Linked DNA regions of Homo sapiens: regions 1 and 2 are each reported to be linked to region 3. The links are microRNA targets in miRTarBase. Many come from high-throughput screens and were not tested one by one. Region 3 holds a microRNA gene; each other region holds the end of a gene's coding sequence. Distances are from middle to middle.
What was found. The annotated mature microRNA hsa-miR-6733-5p reads UGGGAAAGACAAACUCAGAGUU and lies in region 3 at 3,493-3,514, opposite strand. An mRNA with a match to its seed (bases 2 to 7 or 8) in the 3' UTR can be bound and repressed. Matches are read on the target gene's strand: a 7mer-m8 pairs with bases 2 to 8, a 7mer-A1 pairs with bases 2 to 7 and ends in A, and an 8mer does both.

Region 1 (5,069 bases), 20 Mb from region 3:
GTAGCTGGAGTTACAGGCGCCTGCAACCATGCCCGCTAATTTATTTTATTTTTTTAGTAGAGACGGGGTTTCACTGTGTTAGCCAGGATGATCTCAATCTCCTGACCTTGCGATCCGCCCGCCTTGGACTCTCGAAGTGTTGGGATTACAGGCGTGAGCCACTGCACCTGGCCTTTTTTTTTGCAGAGTCTCACTATGTAGCCCAGGCTGGAGTGCAGTGGTGTGATCTCACTGCATCCTCTGCCTCCTGGGTTCAAGCGATTCTCCTGCCTCAGCCTCTTCAGTAGCTTGGATTACAGGCACCCGCCACCAAGCCCGGCTAATTTTTTTATATTTTTAGCAGAGATGGGGTTTCACCATGCTGGCCAGACTGGTCTTGAACTCCTAACTTCAAGTGATCCACCGCACCCAGCGTGAGGCATGGTCTTGAATATGCATGTCTCACATTTCCAGGTGATACTGCTGCTGCTGGTCTGAGGACTACAGTTGGACCCACTGATGTAGAGGGTGGGAGGGAGAGTGTGGGCAGCAAGACCTTTCAGGAAGCTGTGGAAATAGATGGGGGAGACAGAGTCAGGGCTGATCACATTTTAGATCTGGGTGCTGCGAACTTTTCAGTGCCTTAATGGTGAGATTGCAGGCATGGTGATAAGAGACTGTATCTTGGAGGGAAATCCACTGGGCAATCATGTGCCCCCAGCATTGGCCAGGACAGCCCCCAACACCCAGCCTGCGGGGACCAGATCCACAGTTGGTAATGAGCTTCAGAAAGCACGACAAAGACAAGATGCCCAGAGCTGCAGTTTAATGTTTAATGCCCAATTATCTCAATACAAGGAGGCTTACATGGTGCTCATAAAGACACGACCAGGCGAAACCAGGCCGGCAGGAAATGACCCGCATGAGTCCCAGCACGGGGACCATGTTCTCTCGGTTCCAGCTCACCCTCGAAAAGTGCCACAGGCAAGGTTCTTCAGCTCACCCAGGAGCCAGCAGGCTGGCCAGGCGTGTGGCCACCATGGTCACTGAGGATCCTCGTGGGAGAATAGGGTTCTGGGACCTCAGGATACAATCACAAGAACCAGAAAGCTGCTTCCAAACAACCCCAGAAGGTTTTCACTTCACATGCGCTAAGCCACACAACACCTGGATGCTGGGGCACCCAAACCCTTTCCCTAAAACTCTGAACACTGCAGAATGGAGGTTGAGAACACTTGGGGAGGGAGAACAAAGTCAGAACCATCCTAAAGCCAGTTTTTCAAGCTTGACCACCTCCCTCTTCCTCCCTGAAGGCACACCAGCCGATCCCATTACTGTGGAAAAGGGACACCCTCTGGTCTATTCTAACACCTTTAATGGGAAAGGAGTTAGGAGCATGTCCCTGGCTTCAAGAAATCTCTGAATCTCCAACTCTACTGGATGATTTCCTGGAGCCCCAAGCTTTAGAAGTCCCTGGGGACACGAGTGATTTTTTTAGGGGGGCTGCTGGTGGGGCTGGGAAGTTTCCTGGCAGAAATTATTTACCTCAGAAAGACACTGGCTTTTCTCTTACCCTCGTTTTAAAGTCTACCTGGTCCCTAAAGAAAATACCACTCAGGCTGGGCCTGGTGGCTCGTGCCTGTCATCTCAACACTTTGGGAGGCCGAGGTGGTGGATCACTTGAGGTCAGGAGTTCAAGACCAGCCTGACTAACATGGCAAAACCCCGTCTCGACCAAAAATACAAAATTAGCCGGGCGTGGTGGTGCATGTCTATAGTCCCAGCTACTCTGGAGGCTGAGGCAGAAGAATCGCTTGAACCTGGGAGGCAGAGGTTGCAGTGAGCCGAGATCAGGCCACTGCACTCCAGCCTGGGCAACAGAGCGAGACTCCATCTCAAAAAAAAAAAAAAAGAAGAAAAAAAGAAAAGAAAATACCACTCAAAATGTGTCCTGAAGCACTCTGTGGAAGTCGGGAGGCTTCAAGTGTCACTGGCAAGACGGGGGCATGAGCTTGTGTCCTGCACTGAATCTGAGGCTTAGCCTGGGAGGTCTAGCCCCTTGGCCAGGCAAGGTGTGAAAGGGACAGTAGAGGGGGACAGAGGCAGCTGCTGAGCACACGGGGCACAAGCCTGAAGGCAGCTCCCCTGACCAGCCATATGGAGAGGCCTCTAGGGCATGAGCTTACATTCCAGACTTCAGTATTAAACTCATTCCCAATGGGTCCTGCAGGCCCCTTCTTCCTTTTCTCTGATGTAATTCTTGGGGAAAGCTCCAGAGCCCAAGGAATGGGAGTCAAACACCTCTGACTTCAGAGATGGCACATGGCTAAATGGCAGCCCAGTGGAGACCTCAGAGCAGCCCACTCACCACAAACGAGATCCTACACAGGGTCCCTGAGCATGCTGGACTTTAAGACGGGCGTCTGATAAGACCCTTGTGAGTATTTGGGTAGGAGACCAAAAGCATTTCTGCAAAGGGTACACAATTAGCCCTGCTTATAGAGTGGGGGCAGCTGTGACCCGCTGACCACTCCTGGGAGGGGGCTAACTTGGGGGCCCAGGAATTTGAGCAAATGATGAGGCACAATTGTCCCCAGCTGGGCATTAGATCACATTGGGCCCCACCCTGAAATAATCCCTCGTCTCAAACTTCAGACATCAGTCAGTCAGCTCAGGAGCCATCCAACAAAACCAACTTCATATTTTAAACCAGCTTAATGCTACAAACTTTTCTAAAAAGTGCTGTCCAGCTGAGCCTCTGAGAAAACCTAGCTCCCTGAGGGGTGGATGGCAGGCCTCTCAGACCAACCCCTGAGCCTCTCTCCAGAAGTCATAGCCTTGGTTCAGCCCAGAGCACCCACATCCCAGGGTGGGTGGGGGAGAAGAGCAGCTGAGCTGAAGGGACAATGTGGGATGATCAAGCCTCTGGGGGAACAGGCTGAAGCCAAAAGACCCCCTCAGGACCCCAGGCCTGCAGAGGTAACATGAGTTCCTCTCCCCATTAGCTGTGAAGGCCTGGTCTGCCATGAAGACCTCTCTCTGTCACCCCTTCAGTATACCTGGGAAAAAAGGAGTGAACAAGTCACCAAGCCCCAGTCACCTCTGTCCTTGGGGTCTGAGTGAGCTCTGAGGGGTGGAGTCCTTAATGAACCATCCCCTTCAATAACATGGTGAAAAAATTCCTCCCAGGGAAGCAGAGAATGATGCCAGTGCCACATGGGGGGCAGAGGGGATGCTTTTGGCAGTTTTTTGTTTTAATCTGACCCTTCTTTACAGTGGGGCTGCCTCTGCCTACCAAGTCCTTGGTGCAAAATGGCTCCTGGACCAGCGCAAGGCAGAAACTCTGAGGAAAAGTGCCCGCCACAGCCATGACAGCTGCCCCCATGCTCCTGTCTGTTTTCCACGGGAGCTTGTCTCTGCTGGACCATTTTTACATCTCAAGGGGAGAGGTAAGGACTTCCTCAGGAAAGGGGTCTCCTGAGCAGGTGGCTCCTGTTTCCACAGGAGCCTCAGTGCTACCTGCCCTAGGATGGCTCCCTGGGACCATCTCTGGGACAGAGGCGACCAGGAAGCCAAGACCGGCAGCTCAGCTGGAGATGTGAGGCCAAGAACAGGGGAAGAGGCAAAAGGGCCCACAGCTGCCGTTTACTAGAACCATGAGGCCTAAGTGCAATTAGCATTCTAGCAGACTGGACAGCCCCTCAGAGTCCCAGCCCCCACCACAGTGGGGAAACCAAGGATGTAGCCTGGGCCCCTCCCTTGGAAACCCAGACCTGCCCTGGAACATGGACAGTGATGGGCCTGTCTGCAGAGGTCTCACTAAAAACTAGAACAACCTCCCTGCTAAAACTCAGGGAGGACAAACAAACAACTCAACCTGAAATAAATACAAAGGCATTATGTGCTTCTTGGTACGTCGAGGGTCCTAATTACCCCTCAAAAGGAGGTAGCAGGGCCTTTCCCTGGACTTGGCCACCTCACCTGCAGCCTTCTTGTGAGAGGTCAGAAGTCAGAAGACTGGATGGGCCTCCCTAGGCCCAGCTTCCATTAGGAAGGTGAGGACCACCCCTTATCCACTCCTCACCCGTACCATTCATATCTCCCCACACAGCTTCTGCCGGCTGGGGCAGGAAAGGCGAGGAGACCCCATGCCCTGAGGGCAGCACCTAGTGTCCAATGTCCCTGTGCAGGCAGAGGGGCTGTCAGCCTGTCTGTGAGGAGGTAGAGTCGGGGGCAGGCTGCTGGGGGCAGGCAGGGCCACTCAATTAATCAACAGGTCCCCAAGGTCGTAGGAGTCGAAGAGATCGCTGATGCCCTCACCCGCCTCCAAGCCCCACAGGTAGTCGTCCTGGTCCAAGGATGGGGAGAAGCTGATCAGAGGGGAGCTGCACGCCAGGGTCGGGGACAGGAACTGGTCCTCAGTCTGCTGCAGGAGTGGGTGCGGCAGCTCCAGCAGGCTGTCAGTAGCCTCCAAGGGGACCAGGGATGGAGGCGGTGGGGCCTGCTGGGGGGTTGGCGCTGGTGCTGGCACTGGAGACAAACAGACAAAGGTTACGCCTGGCCCTAGCATCCAACTCCTCAGCACGCGAGGACAGACTTCCGGTTCTCTGGATGACTGCACCCTTCTTCTCTCTCCTTAGCCTGGGTGGACTGTCGTGCTCTCAAAATCCACCTTCCAGAGTCTACACCCAACCCTACAACTTTTCATGTATTTTTTATTTTTTTGAGACCGGGTCTCACTCTATCACCCAGGCTAGAGTGCAGTGTTGTGATCTTGGTTCACTGCAACCTCTGCCTCCCAGGTTCAAGCGATTCTCCCACCTGAGCCTCCCGAGTAGCTGGACTACAGGCATGCACCACCACACCCAGCTAATTTGTGTATTTTTAGTAGAGATGGGGTTTCACCATGTTGGCCAGGCTGGTCTCGAACTCCTGACCTCAAGTGATCGGCCTTCCAAAGTGTTGGGATTACAGGCCTGAGCCACTGTGCCCGGCCAAAAAGGAAAGAAATTCTGACACATGCTACAACATAGATGAACCCTGAGGACATTAAACTATGTGAAATAAGCCAATCACAAAAAAACAAATAC
Region 2 (5,069 bases), not on the chromosome of region 3:
CGTGGTGCAGACCAAGGAGGATCTGAATGCCTCAGGACTCACAGGTTCTGCCCACCCTGCTGCTGGGGAGAGGTGGGGAGGTGTCAGGGCTGATCAGAGCCTGGGGCAGCAGGAGGCAAGAGGAGGACTGGGCTGGAGAATAGTTCTGTCCTCTGGGCCCCCAGGAAGCATTGTCGGGCATGTGGGTGACGGCAACTTCCACTGCATCCTGCTGGTCAACCCTGATGACGCCGAGGAACTGGGCAGGGTCAAGGCTTTTGCAGAACAGCTGGGCAGGTAGGAGCAAAGCCAGGGAGGGGAAGAGCTGAGGGCAGAGGAAAGGGAGCCCCCTGAGGATGTCTCCTTCCTGCCCCCAGGCGGGCACTGGCTCTCCACGGAACGTGCACGGGGGAGCATGGCATCGGAATGGGCAAGCGGCAGCTGCTGCAGGAGGAGGTGGGCGCCGTGGGCGTGGAGACCATGCGGCAGCTCAAGGCCGTGCTAGACCCCCAAGGCCTCATGAATCCAGGCAAAGTGCTGTGAAGGGGGTCTGAGCACTTAGCCCACAAGTTCCCTGACTACGGAGCCGGTTCTGGAACTTTTCTTCATGCCACGGCCCCTGCAAGGAAATAGATGCTGAGGCAGTCTTCCTGCCAGCGAGCCCACTGTATCTGGGCCCAAGGCCAGAGGGCCCAGAGAGAAGCCTGAGCACCGTGTTACCTCCCTGGCCCTCTGGCTGGCCCCAGGAGCCTTTGGTTCAGTAAACGACCCAGGGTGGTTCCCAGCAAAGCTGCTTCCTCTCTGCTCCTACGCATCCTGTCCTGGCGGGAAGAGAGCGTCTGGGTCCATTCAAGACTCTGATGACACCCCTCCCCGAGGCCTCCCACTGCCGGGGTCCCAGGACCCTTCCCCCTTCACCTGGTGACAGGAACACTCCTTTCCTGGTATGGAACGTGAGCTCCCGTGACATGATGATAGGTCTTCTCCTTGGGGCCTCCCCCAATAAATCTGTAATAAACCTGAAACCCACCTACAGCTACCTGGAAGTCAGCAGGCAGCACTTCCTCCCCTCCCCCTCCAGGGTCTCTGTCCTTTGGTCAGTGACCCCTTTGTTTTGGGGCTGTCCTCTGACTTCTTATAGCCTGGGGAGGAGGTTGGTGCTCAGGGTTCGGAAAGGAACCCAGGTCCCTGTCCCAGCTACTCCGCCTCAGAGCTGAGGACCTGCCCACGGCACATGTCACTCAGGATGGGCTCCCCAACTGGGCCTGAACCGGGCCTCTGAACACACTGAATGTGTTCCTCAGCAGCTGCCACGTCTCTAGAAACAGAGATGAGACTATTTTTGCACCCACCTCTTCATGGGGTGATGTATCGTACCACCAGCTGTTTTGCCCTCAAGGTCTGTCCACCCGAGGGCCTGCCCCTGTCTTGGGCCGGAGCCCGTCTTGAGACCTTGGCAGTTGTTCCCCCCTAAGCCCACAGGAGGGCGCCCGAAATCATGAAGCTCAGATACCACGCGGCATCTGCAGCTCACGACTCCTCTGCCCAGGGCCTGCGGCACTCAGCCCTGGGCAAACCTCCTCCTAGGGTCAGGTAAGTCCTGGCAGCCTGGAAGCCAAGCTAGTCCTCCATCCCCTGCAGGTCCCAGGAACCTGCAGTGCTGTCTCATCTTCCTTGCCCCTCTAGCCTTCGGTCCCTTTTGGAAAGAGGCATGTCACACCCCACGCCCTCCCTGGCCTCCGCCCCTCTCCTCCTCCCATCAGCTGTCAGTGCTCAGGCAGGCTGCTAGGCCTTAGGCAGAGGCAGCTGCGCTGAGACGCCCCAGTCCAACTTCAGTTCTTGGAACCCCTCCTCCGTGCTAATACTGGGCTCCAGCCGACAGCAGTTACACCAACCTGAGCCTGGAGGCTACTCCTCCGTGACGTTTCTGTCCCGTGCTGCCCTGGTGGGGAGCAGAGACCGTGCCAAGGGCTCACTGGTGACAAATCTCAGCCCTCTCCCCAAACCACCCCAGCACGCGTGTGCTCATCACCGAGACAGCCCTCTCGCCCCTCCCCTTCCAGCCAGCCAGCCAGCCACCCACTCTTCCAGGCGAGAATCCTGCAGCAGCTGCGCTCTCCCTCCTGGGTAGGACTCTTCTTTGATGCGCCCTCCAGTGCCTGGCAACTAGGAGGCGCTCAGCAAATGACCATTTCCCACAATCTTTTATTAAGAAAAATTCCAAACATACAGAAAAGTTGAAAGAACAAGTACACTGTTCACTGAAATACCAGCCACTGCAGATTCAACAATGAACATTTTGGCCTTATTTGCTTTGTGTATTTTGGGGGGAACTATTTGGAATTAAATTACACATTTCTTGAAGGCATTCACCTATATAATCCAGCATCTATCTCCTAAGAATGAGGACATTTTCCCATGAACTGCAGTACCGTTAAATGGCTATTAGAGGAATGGTTGGTCTTTGTGAGGGTCTCACGTCCAGGAACCTCATCAAAGTGTGCTAGGCCCTTAGCAGAGAGGGTAGAACCTGCTCGCCGGCTCCCTCACCTTCTCTCCCATCCCAGAAAGGCAGAACAGGGGCAACACAGGATTCTGGAGAGCTGTCCAGATAGAGGATCACAAACATGAGCTCCACCTGGGAAACACAGACAGCCCCAATCCCACCCCCACAACAAGAGCAGGCAACCTGGGTCCAAATTCAGAGGACACCACAGCCGGCAGAGGGCTGCAGCATGCCAGGTAGGACGGAAGTCGCTGGGGGTGGGGATGAGCACCAGCCCCTAGAGCCTGGAATAGCACCCGGCGTGGGCTACAGCCCTGCCCCACCCACCTCACAGCTGCTCGGCTCACCCATGGCACTGCCAAAGCAGCAGGCTTAAGCCGCCAAGGCGGGCACATGAAGCCTCCATTTCCAGGTCCAGGGGTCAGGCAAGGAGATCTCCTTCAGGGCTGGGCCCTGCCTCGCCAGCTTTGCTGGTGGAATTAAATATAGCACAGGGAGACACAGTTGCCAGGCAGAAGCAGGAGGTGCTGTGAATAGAACAGTGCCCTTTGTGGTGACAAAGCTATGGGGAGCCTGCTGTGCATGTGCCAAGACCTGCAGGGCAGCTCCCCCAGCCCCCACAGGGACCTCTGAGCTGCATGGTTTTGTCCCCGCTTCACATGTGAAATATCTGAAGTTCAGATGAAGTCGTTTCCCCAAGATCATTCTGCCAAGTAGGAGAGCCTGAATGCACAGTCTAGAGCCCACGTTCCTGCCACCGACTCACAACAGCCCCAAGGTCTTCACCCCAGACGGGTCCCGCGCTGAGACCCAGGCTCTGAACCACCGAGTCTTCTTTAGTGTTTCTCCGCTGGCCCTGGCTCACGTTTGCCCACTGGCCTGTTGTGAATGCCCTTGCACAGAGTAGGTGCTTCTGGAAGCATCTGATGGAGGGTGACTGCGGAGCCAGGGGCCGTGGCAGCAGGGGGATGGTCCAGCACATCAGGCGGGCCTGAGAAGGGTCAGAGCAGAGAGGCGGTGGAGTCGTCTCCCTCTAGAGCTTTCCTTCGCTGGCTCTGCAGGAGGCTCTGGAATGCTGCTCCGGGAGCCCGCTGGGCACGGGGACACAGGCCAGGCCTGCACTGCTGCTCCCTGCCCCGAGCTGCCTGCCCAGCCCGCATTTTGCCAACTTTTGTGAGCCTGAGCAGTTGGTTCTGGTTCAAGGGCTCTGAGCTGGCACAGCCCCAAACCAGGGCCTCTTCCTGGGCCTCAATGAAGCATGCCCGTGAGTCAGCACTGAGACGCAAACTGAACAACAGGCAGGGCGAGTGGAACGTGGGATGGGGAGCAAAGGCTGGAAGGAGGGGGGCTGGGCCCACACCTGGAAGAACCCACATCCTTGCAGCCTCCGGTGGCTGCAACATCTTGGCCCCTGCAGATCTTTTCAGAGGTCCAGCACAATGACTCCACAGAGGGCTGACTGGTTCCATGATGCTTAAGAGGTTAGGAAGCTTGTAGGAGGCACGCCTGACTTGCCACTCCCTCCACCCAGGCCTGACTATCTGAGGACCAATTCACACACCTGGAGCCCCGAGTAGCAGCCTGAAGGAATGCTAAGGAGGTAGGTGAGGGAGTGGGGGGCAGGCCCTTGCCCCCATTTCTTGATTGTATAACACTTCATTAAAATAAAATCACGCAGTGCCATCTTTTATTAGACATTTTAATACCATATCAAAACACCTTGACTAATGAAGAAAGCTTTTCTCCCAAGCTTTGAACATTTTTTTAAACATTTTATAAGTTTTTTTTTGTATTTTAATATATAAATACAGAAACCTATCTTGCATGGGCTGATGCCACGTGTGAACATCAATGGCTAAAATGTTCTCAAACATAGTGCCTGAAAACAGGGGTAGCTGTACATATTTCTTAGTAAGTCTTTTTTTGTTTAAGTTTTCTGAAAAAAAAAATCCACGAGGGCCTAAGAATAATGTTCAGGCATTTTTGCAGGACACTTGTGATTGTTAAATCCTCTGAACTGACCGGAACCAGGAGGAAAGAAGGGAAAAGAGATGGGATCAGTAGGAAGAAAGTTCTCAATGGGTTGTTTTTTGGCAATGAAGTCAAGATATTAGGGTCTCAAGGGGAGAAAAGAGCAAAAAACCAGCCAGAAAAATAGAGGGAAAAAACCAAACAAACCCAAAGTAGAGAAGTTGGTGGTGGAGAGGGCCAGTTGGGGCAGGGGAAGAGACCGTGTGCTCGCCCGCCGTCAGAAGGCTGGCAGCGAGGCCTTAGCTGTGTTCGTCTGTCACTGAGTGGGTTATGGCTGGGCAGCAAACAGCAAGCTGTAAACATCACGAGGGAAAACACCAGTCGACACTAGACTTTTTTTTTATATAATTTTTTTTTGTAAACACTTTAAAGACAGACCCACAATGCCTTTCAAAGATGAAAAAGAAAATGCCCTTTCCCTCCTGGGCTGAGGGGTGAGGGGAAGGATAGCAGTTGATTCATTCTTCTCTCAAACTTGCTCTCATCCAATTTGGTGTCCTCAGGGAGGAAGGGAGAACCATGATCTGGAAGTCAGTGCAGAAGGGGTGCCCTG
Region 3 (5,070 bases):
GAATGTATCAGTGAAATGACTCCAAACGTGGACAAGAGTTCTGCAGCCCAGATCACAAGTGCTTATGTCCAAATGTTGACGAAGTCTTAACACCCACACCAATCTTCCTCACATTCATTTCTTCCCACAATCCTAACTTTAAAATCTGTCATCTTCTTTCTTAGATGACCATGAAATAAAAAAGGAAAACCAAGAAAAGTTTTAGGGTATGCCTGATCTGGTGTTACATTAGAACTCAGACATTCATAGTTCAAACACGCAGGCAATCTTTCAGATTGGATGACAATCATTATGATAATTTCTTCAGGTACGTGATTATCACATAGATCAGTGAATCCCAAACCAGGATGCATTTCAGAATCACCTGGAAAGCTTTTGGGGAAGAGGGGAAAACAGGCACAGATTCCTGGGGATTCTGAAGTCTAGAATTCTGTTTTGAAAAATTTCCCCTGGTGATTTTGCTATAAGGTCAGGTTTGGAAACCACTCATCTGGACCCAGTGTACAGATGTGAAAACTAACGCCCAGAGAGGTGATTGGCTCACCTGCAGTCACCATACTACTCCTGGGGAACCACTCATGTCCAGGCAAGATTGTGCTCATGAATACCAGCACATACACTGAGAGACGGTAAATACATGATCAACACACAGTTCCGTTCAGTTCAGGGGACCAAGTCAGACCACGGCAATCTCATCTAACACACACTCCGCCTCTTCCTGTTCCCTGCACACTTTTCTTCTCACCTTCTTCCCGTATTTCCTAAGTGCTCGCAGTTGCTTAGCTTTTTCAGACCTCTCCATGGCAGCCTGTTTAGTCTGCAGCTTCTGTCGAATCTACAACACAAAATGCTGTCAGTTCATGTCATTTGAATCTGGAATGACCACTACTTAGGATTCGCTAGAGCAGGGAACAGATATTCCCTGTTCTTTAAACTGCGGAACTTATAAATCATCAGTTCCAACCCCTGAGGACAATGGGGCCCACAGGCTGAGCACTTTACCAAAAGTGCCAGAGTGAAGCCAGAGATTGAAAGTCACCTTCCCGCTCCCAGTGTGCTGTCTGTTTCATTATACAAACTGCCTATTTGTAGCCCAGGAAAGAAGACAAACTTCTCCCCATTTCTACTGTCAGTAGACTGAGGCTGGAAACCAGTATGCGGCCTCAGTGTCCTTTTCTAGTATACCACATACACAATAAAAACCCAGGCAGATACCAGGTGCCTAGCCTTTTCAGTCAAACATACACATTTTAGTTAAAGGATGAGAAGTTGTCAGTGAGAATTTGTACAGAGTTCACAGTAAGAAGGTGAACTACTACCACGACAAAAGCTCCCTAAAATCCAGCTTGAGACCCCAGGGTACTATTTAAATATACTTATCCCTCAGTATCCATAGAGGATTAGTTCTAGGACCCACTACAGATATCAAAATCCACAGATGCTCAAGTCCTTTATATAAAAATGGTGCAGCATTTGCATATAACCTACACTCGCCTCCAGTATCCTTTAAAGTCAGAGGACCTCAACTCCCAGGCCACAGACCGCTACGAACCCACTATGAATCTGTGGCCTGTTAGGAACCAGGCCGCACAGCAGAAAGTGAGTGACAGGCAAGCAAGCATTACCACCTGAGCTCCACCTCCTGTCAGATTGGTGGTGGCGTTAAATTCTCATAGGAGTGCGAACTCTACTGTGAACTATGCATGGAACTATGCATGCAAAGGATCTAGGTTGCCTGCTCCTTATGAGAATCTAATGCCTGATGATCTGAGATGGAACGGTTTCATCCCAAAACTATCCCCTCCCCAAGTTCATGAAAAAATTGTCATCCACGAAACTAGTCTCTAGTGCCAGACCGCTTCTTTAAATAGTCTCTAGATTACTTATAATACCGAATACAATGCTATGCATCACCTCATTCTCATGGATTCAATGTAGTTCTCGGCACACGGAAAATTCAGTTTTCCTTTTGCAATATTTTCAAATTTTTTTCCCCAATATTTTTGATCCAAGGTTGGTTGAATCCACAGATGCTGAACCCATGGCTATGGAGGGCTGAATGTATGTTGGATTACATGCTGGCAATCCCTTCTTCCAAAGTTAAATGAGGTCCAAGTTCTACCCAACTCTAAATTGTACTATATCTGAACCATCTAAGAATCCCTCATTTTACAGAGGAGAAAACTGAGGCCCAGAGAAAAGTAATTGTCTACAAGTTCTAGCACTGACAGTGGCAAGGGCACAAGAATGCTGTCCTCTCTGCACACCATGTCATGACCATGCCAGCTAGGAAATGCACTGGGCCATCTTCACCTCGGGGACCACACTTCACACAGCACTGTTCCTCTCCTTAATTGCTGATTTTAGAAAAAATGTCATTTTTATATGCATCTAATTGGTGGTAACTGGCATGACTCTGAAGTAGCCAATCTATGGAAGAGGTAATAATTGTCCTCTGACAACTGGCTCCCCGTTATTGGGCTCATAGCTATCTTTCTAAGCCAGCTGAATATGCTTAAGTACAAAGTTTTGACTTTCCAGAGGAAAACTTCTATTTCTTACCTTCTGCATCTGCAGATCAGATTTGGCCATTTCCGCAAAATAATCAGTGGGTCGCTTCGTAGGGACTTTGAGCTGATGGAGGCGGGGTAAGACTGCAAGCACTGCGGCCTGGGCTTGGCGATAGCTGAGAATCGTAGGACAAAATGTGTAATGAGGTGAAGGAGGAGGCCTTACGTTCCTTTTCACCGCCAATCATGAGTTATCCAAGCTCAGAAGGACTCTCAAAATCTGACCTCCATTAGCAAGAACAAACAAACAAAAACTGTCTCACTGATTTAGTATCTAAAAGAAATGTAGCCGTATACTAGTTTTTAAAAAGGGGAGGGGTGTTGCTAAAAATAGTTTAAGAGAATGACTACTCTAAAGGTACCCATTAACACAAACGAATGTCGATTATGGATTCTTATGTAATTACTAAAGCAATTCCACACAAGAACATCCCATAAGCAATGTTTGTTTGTTTGTTTTCCTAATAACTGAAGCATGCACAAAAAGTTTTAACATGAATATTTCAAATTAGCCCATAAAGTGGATTTTGGATCGTGACCGTGGACCAAAGAGCTCTTCTCTCAAACAGGAAGAATCTCCTAGCTATTCTTAGTCAAAAGAAGCCGCTCTCTCTACTCCTAGGCTTATTCTGAGTGCAGACTTACTAATTTCCCCTCTTTCCCACTCTCCTGCACAAGGATCCTCAACTTCTCCAACATTTGAAAACAAACATACAAACTCATCTCTCGCTGGAAGTCGTCTTCTGGATCAACAGCTTTCTGGTCCTTGTTCTGAGGTGCTGGCGCCTCAGATCCACCGATCTCCGGTACCGGACCCAGTGTCACATCGAGCCTTTCAACCCATTCCAGATCCCGCTTGAATTCTGCCAAACATTGCTTCAGGCCATTCTAGGAAATCCAGACACTGAGCTCACAAGAAGGGAACTCTGAGTTTGTCTTTCCCAAGCACAGGCTGTTAGGCGAAGGGACAAAGTGCTAATCCCCAATACCCAGACAGGTAATTGACCCTCTTGGCGAGGCGCAGGGTGCATCTTTCCTGGGACAAGAATCGGTCTCCCAAGCCCAACAGCGCCTGAAGCGCATCCCATGTCCGAGTACCCCCGACCCTGTGCCCACGCTCACCACGTCGTTCACGGCCTTCTTCGGCCCCTCTAGCACGACATTGAGGCCTGGCTTCAGAAGCCCTCGGGAAAACGCATCCTGCAACTGCAGGACACAATCACGGTCACTCCCAGGGGTGTAAGGCCCCCTCTCCCACGCCCAGCCCCACGAGCTCGGCTGACACCTACCTCTCTGTCTGTGACAAGGGATTCATCGGATTCCGACTCCGAATCCGAGAGCGGGGGAGTGTCCATCTCGCCGCACGCACGTCCCACACCTACAGGAAGAAACGGGGTATCCCGAGACCCAAGCGGCTAGCAGAGGGCGGCCCTGGCCGCTGCTGCCTGCCTTCAGCCCCCTACTCCCACGCCGTGGCTCCACGTGCCACCGAATCGCTCCAGCGCCAGCAACTCACAGCTACTGCTCAACTTTTGATTGGGACTTCCGCTTCCGGCGGCAAACCATACTTCCGGTTTGTCGTTGCTATAGGAACCGCTACGGCGTTTGAAAGTGTCCGGGTTGCTTAGGATCCCTACAGGTAGCGCCTCTGGATACATGCGTGGTCTGCTGACCCAGAGAGAAACGAAAGGTGGGAGGGGGTACCTGGGGGTCGCCAGAAGGAGCTGGTAGCAGTGAGGGTACAAAGGAAAAGGCAGAAAAAGGAGCCGCGGGGGTGGGGTGGCGCGGAGGAGGACCCCGGGGGAGGGGAAAGGGGAGGGACAAGGGGAGGGGAAAGGGGAGGGACAAGGGGAGGAGAAAGGGGAGAGACAAGGGGAGGAGCAAAGGGCGGGGAGGGCGAGTCCGGGCCGGGGGCGGGGTCGGAGCGGGGCGGTGCTCTCCACTCTGAAGCGCTGCCTTGGTCTTCAGCAGAACTGTTTGGCGGGAGATCATGTCAGCCGTGGTAGCTCAGACGCTGCATGTTTTTGGTCTTCGATCCCACGTGGCCAACAATATCTTCTACTTCGATGAACAGATCATTATATTTCCTTCAGGAAATCACTGTGTGAAGTACAATGTGGATCAGAAATGGCAAAAATTCATTCCAGGTAAAACTTTTTCCATCCTGACATATACAGGAATGGTATGTGCCACATATAACCCCATAATCCCAGCATGATGATTGGAAAGAAAGATTTTGGCCAATTTGAATATATATGCAGTATTATAAATGTAGAGGAAATAAATGGCGACTTGTATTATGAAACTAGATTAATCAGTCACGCATATGTAGTTAAAATCACATATAAAATGTTAATTTAAAAGTACTTTTTTCACTGTAATTTCATGAAAATATGTTAAGAACCCCTCTTTTGGTGTCTTCAATATCACTGCCTTTGTCATCACCAGAGCCACTTTTTGAGTTGTCTAACAGTTTTCCTGAGCACACCACCTTCATTAT

Region 1: miRTarBase lists E2F2 as a target of hsa-miR-6733-5p. Seed matches in the 3' UTR shown: 7mer-A1 at 3,040-3,046, 7mer-m8 at 2,243-2,249 and 8mer at 1,357-1,364.
Region 2: miRTarBase lists LDHD as a target of hsa-miR-6733-5p. The part of its 3' UTR that is shown has no 7-base or 8-base seed match.

The regions. Positions count from the first base shown.
Region 1 is chr1:23,505,640-23,510,708 of GRCh38, forward strand. It overlaps E2F2 (E2F transcription factor 2), which reads right to left. Exons shown (of 7, transcript NM_004091.4): 7 at 799-4,509. The coding sequence ends at 4,241. Among named protein-coding and RNA genes, the nearest start is that of E2F2, 23 kb to the right of the region's middle.
Region 2 is chr16:75,107,809-75,112,877 of GRCh38, reverse strand. It overlaps LDHD (lactate dehydrogenase D), which reads left to right. Exons shown (of 11, transcript NM_194436.3): 9 at 1-44; 10 at 165-276; 11 at 357-1,014. The coding sequence ends at 522. It overlaps ZNRF1 (zinc and ring finger 1), which reads right to left. Exons shown (of 5, transcript NM_032268.5): 5 at 1,884-5,069. Among named protein-coding and RNA genes, the nearest start is that of LDHD, 6.4 kb to the left of the region's middle. RefSeq lists enhancers at 1,542-1,591, 3,589-3,668, 3,699-3,848, 5,043-5,069.
Region 3 is chr1:43,168,194-43,173,263 of GRCh38, forward strand. MIR6733 (microRNA 6733) reads right to left here and starts at 3,519; the gene lies at 3,459-3,519. It overlaps EBNA1BP2 (EBNA1 binding protein 2), which reads right to left and starts at 4,097. Exons shown (of 9, transcript NM_006824.3): 1 at 3,860-4,097; 2 at 3,693-3,776; 3 at 3,286-3,458; 4 at 2,563-2,686; 5 at 746-835. The coding sequence starts at 3,925. CFAP57 (cilia and flagella associated protein 57) reads left to right here and starts at 4,137. Exons shown (of 23, transcript NM_001378189.1): 1 at 4,137-4,260; 2 at 4,542-4,717. The coding sequence starts at 4,561. RefSeq lists enhancers at 3,172-3,808, 3,634-3,863, 3,809-4,444, 3,994-4,123, 4,204-4,253 and a silencer at 4,364-4,563.